Linked DNA regions of Homo sapiens. The protein of the gene in region 1 purifies or fractionates together with the protein of each later gene. This does not show direct contact. Each region holds a gene or a part of one and is shown on either strand. Other genes may lie near its edges.

Region 1 (3,651 bases):
TACTCTTAAGTGAACCAGCATTTTGACCCGCCCAGGGTCACTGAACAGGGCCTGGGGTGGCCAGCATATTTGCTTGTCCCTTCACCCCAGCATGCTGTGTGTATGCTTTAATTTGAAATGGCTGGGAAGCAATTTTCCATTTGAGCAAAAATGCCACCAACAAATTTAAAAGATAAGTGATACATTGGGGAAGATATGATAATAGTTGATATCCCTATTATAAAAAGAGCTCTTAGAAATGAATATGTAAGATGAATATACCAATAGGAAACAGACAAAGATTATGAATATTCCATAGATGTTCAACCAATAGATGTTCAACTTCATTAGTCATGAAATGCAAGCAAAAAGATGTCTTTTCTTTTTTTTGCCTATCATATTGATCAAGATAGACAGCCCCTACTGTTGGAGAGTTGTAGGGAAGATGGATTGCTGATGAAATGTTGACTGATAGAAACTTTCTTAAGAGTTTCACCATAAGGGGCAGTACTGAAGATGTGCGTATTGATCCTATTTATAAGAGTTTATCCCTGGGAGACAGTCCCACAGGTGCAAAGGAGTTTGTACCAGTATATTTATCAGATCATTGTTTAGGATAACAAAAACTTAGAAACAACCTAAAAAACCACCTACTGAGTTAAATGACGTACCTATTCAATGGAGTTCTATGCAGCAACTGTTGATCTATATTTGTTAATGTGGGACCATATCCACAACAATGAGAAAAGGGGGATATAATACAGCATCTTTGGTCAGGTTATGGTCCCATCAAATGTTGTGGCTGTGGGATTGGAGAGGGGTAGGAAAGGTATACACCAGAATGTTACAGTGGTTTGTCTCCAGGTAGAAGGATTCGGGATGTTTTTCTTTTCTTCATTAGATGTTTCTGTGTTGTTTGAATTTTCTACAAGCATTTCTTATCTTTATAGTGGGAAGGGAATTGTTCTTAATGTAATATGGATTAAAGGGAACCCTTGGTACACTAATGGTGGGAATGTAAATTAGTGCAACCACTGTGGAGAAGTTTAGAGTTTCTTCAAAAAACTCAAAATTGAGCTGCCAAATGATTCAGCAATGCCACTTGTGGGTACACACCAGAAGAAAAAAAAATCTCATTATATTGAAGGGATTTCTGCCCTCCAATGTTACCAGTTACCACCCCTTTCCATGGTAATGACCTGGAAGTTACCATCCCTTTCCTAGAATGTTCTAAATAGCTTGCCCTTCAATTTACATTAACCCACTTCTTACTTTTGCACATAATTGAAAGTGGGTGTAAGTGGGTACAAATACAATTTCCAAATTAAACTCATTTTCTGATAGCAAAGAATAATATATGCTGTATTGGTCAGGGTTCTCCAGAGACACAGAACCAGGGGGATATATATTTTTTTAAATGGAGATTTATTATGAGGAATTAGTTCCTGGGATCATGGAAGCCAAAAAGTCCCACAATTTGCCATCTGTAAGCTGCAGACCCAGGAAAGCAAGGGGTATAATTCATTCTGAGTTTGAAGGCCTGATTGAGAACGAGGAGAGGTGAGGGTATAGATCCTAGTCTGAGAGCAGGAGAAGATGAAATGAGATGTCCCAGCTCAAGCAGTGAGGCAGGGAGAAATGAGTCAAATTCCTGCTTGCTCTGACTTTGGGTCTATCTAGGGCCTCCATGGGTTGGATGGTGCCACCACACTGAGGAGGGGAATCTGCCTTACAGAGCCCACCGAGCTGAATGCTAGTATCTTCCAGAAACACCCTCACTCTCACAGTGTTTAATATGGGCAACCATGGCCAGTCAGGTTGACACCTAAAATTAACCATCACACATGCTTATTCTAGAAAACTTGAGAAATATAGAAAAGAACAAATATCAATCACTCATCATTCCCCACCCTAGCTGTGAGCACATTTGAGTTCATTCCTAAAGGAGGGTGGGAGGAAAACCAAGGCAGACTTTGAGGTTTCTGATGTTGGCCATGATCACCCCACAGGTTCAAGTATAGAGTCCTGGAAAGTGGCTATTGGCGTTAATTCTGACAAATGTGTAGAAAATATCCTGACTTTTTGGTTTTCTCTTTCAACAGTCAAATGAGAATAAGGCTGAGAGGACCTGATCTTTTTGAGTCTTGGGATAAACTTGGAAGATAAAATTACAGAATAATTTGAGACACACATAAATGTTATATTTCAGATATTCTTTCTCTACTGAAAGTTGGTAGCAACTTTGTACATTTCTGTGTTGCCTTTGACCAAAGGACCCAGCTGAGCATTGGAATAGCTCACGCAGCATGTCGCTAAGTGGGAAAGGCTTAAAGGCAAAGGAGGTTTAACACCCAGATAACATGGTGGAGTAGTTGAGAGTACAGTGTTCACTTCCTGCCCTCCCATTTCCTGAAGGTCTGACCAAGTCATTTAATCTTGATGTATCTCAGTCCATCTATAAATTGGGTATTATAATAATAGTGAGATAGAAAACAGGCAGGACTTGTTTTCTGATCATAACCCTGCTGACCAAAACAGGATGTGGTCCAGATGAGATAAGGTTTAAAAAAACACTAGCCAAAGCCAGCAAACGGGAACGAGGGTGATCCCTGGCTGCCCTCATTGCTCATCAGCATGGGACACTCTCACCAGTGCCATGACAGTTTACAATTGCCATGACAACGACCTGGCAGTTACCATCCCTTTCCATGGTAACGACCCAGAAGTTACCTTTCCTAGGAAGTCTTAAATAGCTTGCCCCTCAATTTGCATTAACCCACCCCTTAATTTGCATGTGACTAAAAGTGGGTATAAATACAATTTCCAAGAGCCCCTATGTGGCCAACTCAGGGTGTACTGCCTATGAGTTAGCCCTGCTCCACAAGAAGCAGTGCCCTTCAATAAAGAATTGTGGTCTAACACCACTGGCTCACCCTTGAATTCCTTCCTTGATGAAGCCAAGAACCCTCCCAGGCTAAGCCCCAATTTGGGGACTCACCTGTCCTGTCCTGCATGACTAGTACTTAACTCATAGTGTTGTCAGGAATCTGAAATTGGTTCATATTTGCTAAAATACTTAGAAGGGAGCCCAGCTCATAGTAAACACTTGAAGTATTCACTTTTATTGCCTCTAAGACCCATTTGTTATTTACAAGGCTGCTGTGTGTGGACTCTTTGGAGCCCATCCCTTTGGGATTTTGAATGACTTGAGCACAGGCTAACACTCTCCCTGTCTGTGTGTCTTCTTGCAGCCAGGAGGAAGAAGAGGAGGATGAGGAGGCTGCCTCAAGGTACTATGTTCCCAGCTACGAGGAAGTGATGAACACAAACTACTCAGAAGCAAGGGGAGAGGAGCAGAACCCGAGGTTGAGCATCTCTCTCCCGTCCTATGAGTCACTGACGGGGCTCGACGAGACCACCCCCACATCCACCAGGGCTGACGTGGAGGCCAGCCCTGGGAACCCCCCTGACAGGCAGAACTCTAAGTTGGCCAAACGACTGAAACCGCTGAAAGTTCGAAGGATTAAATCTGAAAAGCTTCACCTCAAAGACTTTAGGATCAACCTCCCAGACAAAAACGTCCCTCCTCCCTCGATAGAGCCTTTGACTCCTCCACCGCAGTATGATGAAGTCCAGGAGAAGGCCCCCGACACCCGGCCGCCCGACTGAATG
Region 2 (3,751 bases), on another chromosome or scaffold:
TTTGAGCTTAGGAGTTTGAGACCAGGCTGGGCATCATAGCGAGACCTCCATCTCTACAAAAATTACAAATATTAGCTGAGTGTGGTGGTGCACACCTGTAGTCCCAGCTGCTCAGGAGGCTGAGGCAGGAGGATCCCTTGAGCCCAGGAGTTCAAGGCTGCAGTGAGCTATGACTGCACCACTGAAATCCATCCTGGGCAACAGAGCCATTTCAAAATAATAATAATAATAATTGATGACAGTGTAATATGGTTGGGGTTCAGAAAATGATACCCCAAAATGAAGGCCTTAGAAGCAGCTCTCTCTAACCTCATGTCCTCCTGCCTCTGGCCCCTCATTCTAGAAACTGGAATCCCTCTTCCCCAAGGTGATTCACAGAAGCCAGAACCCCTCATCCCCAAAGCCAAGCATAAAACCTAAAAGTTTGACTCTGCGTGTCCCCTGCCTTTCTGTGTCAAAACTGGCGGTAAAGAAATTCTCTGCCCTGCTTTGTTTGACTGTAGGTCATAAGACCCCCATTCCAGAAAGGATCCTGCTCTATACCCAGAAGGAAGGAACACTGCACAGAAAAGCCAAAAAGAATCTAAACAGACAGGGCTTGCTCACTTAGTCTATTGGCATTAGCTCAGACCCTTTTTATGCCATCGTAGTATCTCTTAGGTTGGTGCAGAAGTAATTGCGGTTTTTGCCATTAAAAACCGCAATTACTTTTGCACCAGCTGAATACATGGCGGTCCATACTTTATTGAACCTAAGCGAAAAAATGGACCGTTTCCCCTGCATCTTTGGGTTTTCATTCTGAAGGCTCCCGGATCACATAAAGTTACGATCTAGTATATTTGTATGCCTTTTCTACTGTGAAACTGTCTTTTGTCAGTTGATTTTCAGCAAACTTTCAGAGGACGAAGGAGAGGTTTGCCCTTGGCCCCCTACAATACCTAAAGGTATGACTCTTTACTGTGGCAGCTGCTCCAAGCATCATGTTTTGCCAACAGACTCACACATACTAAGTTTATTTCAGTCACAGCAAGTACCAGGGCCAGTTCAAGTGCTCTAGCACGGCACTCTAATTCTAAAGAGAAGGAAACGCGGCACCGGGGCAGGAAACAGTGACAAGTGGGAACACAAAAACCAAAGTTCTCCGTATGCAGCATGAGGATCCAGAACCCACTGTGACATCAAATTGCCAGAGCACCACCTCCGATTTATTCTTGGGGAAAACCAAAAGAGCTACGGAATGCTCCCTTGTTCCAGACTGTTCTATGGAGAACTGGGATCTGGGGAAAATGCAACAGTTTCTTTCCGTTTGGGGATCTAGCCCCGAATTTTTTTCATTCAGCCAAACTACCGACAGTCAGACAGCGCCTGCAGGAGGGTGTGGCCAGGCAAAAACGCGGGGAACGGCCCCGGACCAGGGTGGGGCGTGGCAAGGGTTTGAAGGGCGTGTCCTACGAAGAGGTAGGGCTTGGCAAGGACCCACGGGGCGTGTCCTAGGACTCGGTGAGGGCGTGACCTCGGGCCAGGGGCGGGGAGAGAACCAGAGGGCGAAGTGGGAGGGCACAGGGGAGACTAAAAAGGCCAGGGAAGTTGGCCTGCCGGAAGTTCCCAGGGAGAAGGCAGCGCGTTGTACCCGAGGTAAGGCTTCTTGGAGTCAGAGCAGGAGCCGGAACTGTGGGCCCAGTAGGAAGAGTGGGGCCCGACGGCGGAGGCCGCGCGGCCAGGGTTCGCTGCAGAGCTCCACGCGAGGGTCCTGCCGGAAGGAAGGATTTTCTAGCCGCTGCGCTTGGGCCCTGCCGCCTCTCCTTAAGTGCTTGAGGGACGTTGCAAAGAGCGCCAGTCCCGTGTGGCGCCAGCTCCCTGTGGCTCGACAGCAATGCCCGGGGGCGTCATCGGGTAGCTGTGCTAAGCCTCCTTTAATAAGCTTTTTTTTTTTTTTTTTTTTAGATTCAGGGTCTGGCTCTGCTTCCCAGGCTAGAGTGCATTTGGCGCGATCACAGCTCACTGCAGCCTCGACCTCCTGAGCTCAAGCGAACTTCCTGCCTCAGCCTCCTGAGCTTCCTGAGTAGCTGCGACTACAGGCACGTGCCACCATGTCCGGTTATTTTTGTATTTTTTGTAGAGAGTGTCTCGCCATGTTGCCCAGGCTGGTTTCGAACTCCTGGGCTCAATCAGTCTGCTGCCTCGGCCTCCCAAAGTGCTGGCATTACAGGTCTATATTTTTTGACAGTTTATAAAAGCCAATTACCAGCGGTCATATGTCTGAGTCCTGTGCACTCTTGCTTAATCCACTCTGCAGCCCTGTGAAGGATTCTAGTGATAACGACAAAGCTAAGGTACAGAAAAATTAGGCCACACTGCTGGAAAGTTTAGAGATGGAAACAAAGTTTAGAGGTGGAGTCTTTCTGACTCCACAGCCAGTGTGCTGTTACTCTCTTAGACTACCTCATTCTTTGTACATCCCAAGTCAACAGGAACTAAAGGTATACCCTTACATAGGCAGTAAGAGGGGTTGCTGATTTAAAGAACTTTGGACCCAGAAAGAGTAGAGCCCTATTCTAGTTCTGGTTCCAGCTCAGTGACTTTCTACAAGTTGGTTTTCTTTTGCTTTTTTTAAAGACAGAGTCTCGCCCTTGCCCAGGCTGGAGTGCAGTGGTGCGATCTCGGCTCACTGCAACCTCCGCCTCCCGGGATCAAGCGATTCTCTTGCCTCAGCCTTCTGAGTGGCTGGGACTACAGGCGCGCTCCACCACACACAGCTAATTTTTGTATTTTTAGTAGAGACGGGGTTTCACCATACTGGCCAGGCTGATCTCGAACTCCTGACCTTGTGATTCACCCACCTCGGCCTCCTAAAGTGCTGGGATTACAGGCGTAAGCCACCGCGCCCGGCCTCTTGCTTTTTAAGACTAGGTCTCATTATTTCACCAAAGCTGGAGTGCAGTGGTGCTATCACAGCTCACTGCAACCTTCACTTCCCCCGTTCAAGTGATCCTCCCAGCTCAGTCTCCCACAGGTGCACACCACCACGCCCGGCTAGTTTTTATTTTCTGTTTTTTGTTTTTTTTTTTGTATTTTTGGTAGAGACGGGGTTTTGCCATTTTGTCCAGGTTGGTGTCAAACTCCTGGGCTCAAATGATCTGGCTGCCTCGGCCTCCCAAAGTGCTAGGATTACAGGCGTGAGCCACTGCGCCTGGCCTGCCTGTTTTCTAGACACATTAAGGTGAGTGGTCTCAGGCCAGGCGCGGTGGCTCACACCTGTAATCCCGGCACTTTGGGAGGCTGAGGCAGGTGGATCACTTGAGGCCAGGAGTTCGAGACCAGCCTGGCCAACATGTGAAACCTCTTTTCTTCAAAAAATTAGCTGGGCATGGTGGTGGGCATGCCTGTAATCCCAGCTACTGGAGAGGCTGAGGCACGAGAATTGCTTGAACCTGGGAGGCAGAGGCGGCTGTGAGCTGAGATCACACCACTGCACTCCAGCCTGGGTGTCAGAGCAAGACTCTGTCTCAAAAAAAAAAAAAAAAAAGGTAAGTGGTCTCTAGGTCGCTAGTGGATGTAATAATCTATGGATTTATGAGGATAAGATCCTGATTTTACCATTTAATGATATTTTGGGCCAGTTTTTTTCCTTTTTAATTGGGCAGCCCTCAAACCAGAATAGATTGAGAGGGTCTTCCAGTTTTGGGTCATATTTGCTGCTGAAATTACAAGGTAGTCAGGAAGGGTCTGTTTATTCAATCAAAGATCAATA

Evidence for each region.
Region 2: the proteins of TMEM51 (region 1) and PTER purify together in Homo sapiens (affinity purification with mass spectrometry; 3 studies listed by BioGRID and IntAct, with this or other methods). This does not show direct contact.

Annotation. Positions count from the first base shown.
Region 1 is NC_000001.11:15,216,096-15,219,746, forward strand, and holds part of TMEM51 (transmembrane protein 51), read left to right. Parts: intron 1-3,230; coding exon 3,231-3,648; 3' UTR 3,649-3,651.
Region 2 is NC_000010.11:16,435,413-16,439,163, forward strand, and holds the start of PTER (N-acetyltaurine hydrolase), read left to right. Parts: upstream 1-1,597; 5' UTR 1,598-1,635; intron 1,636-1,944; exon of another isoform or gene 1,945-2,255; coding exon of another isoform or gene 2,256-2,333; intron 2,334-3,751. UniProt on the Homo sapiens protein: N-acetyltaurine hydrolase that regulates feeding by catalyzing the hydrolysis of N-acetyltaurine into taurine and acetate. N-acetyltaurine has anorexigenic and anti-obesity effects that are dependent on GFRAL receptor and GDF15.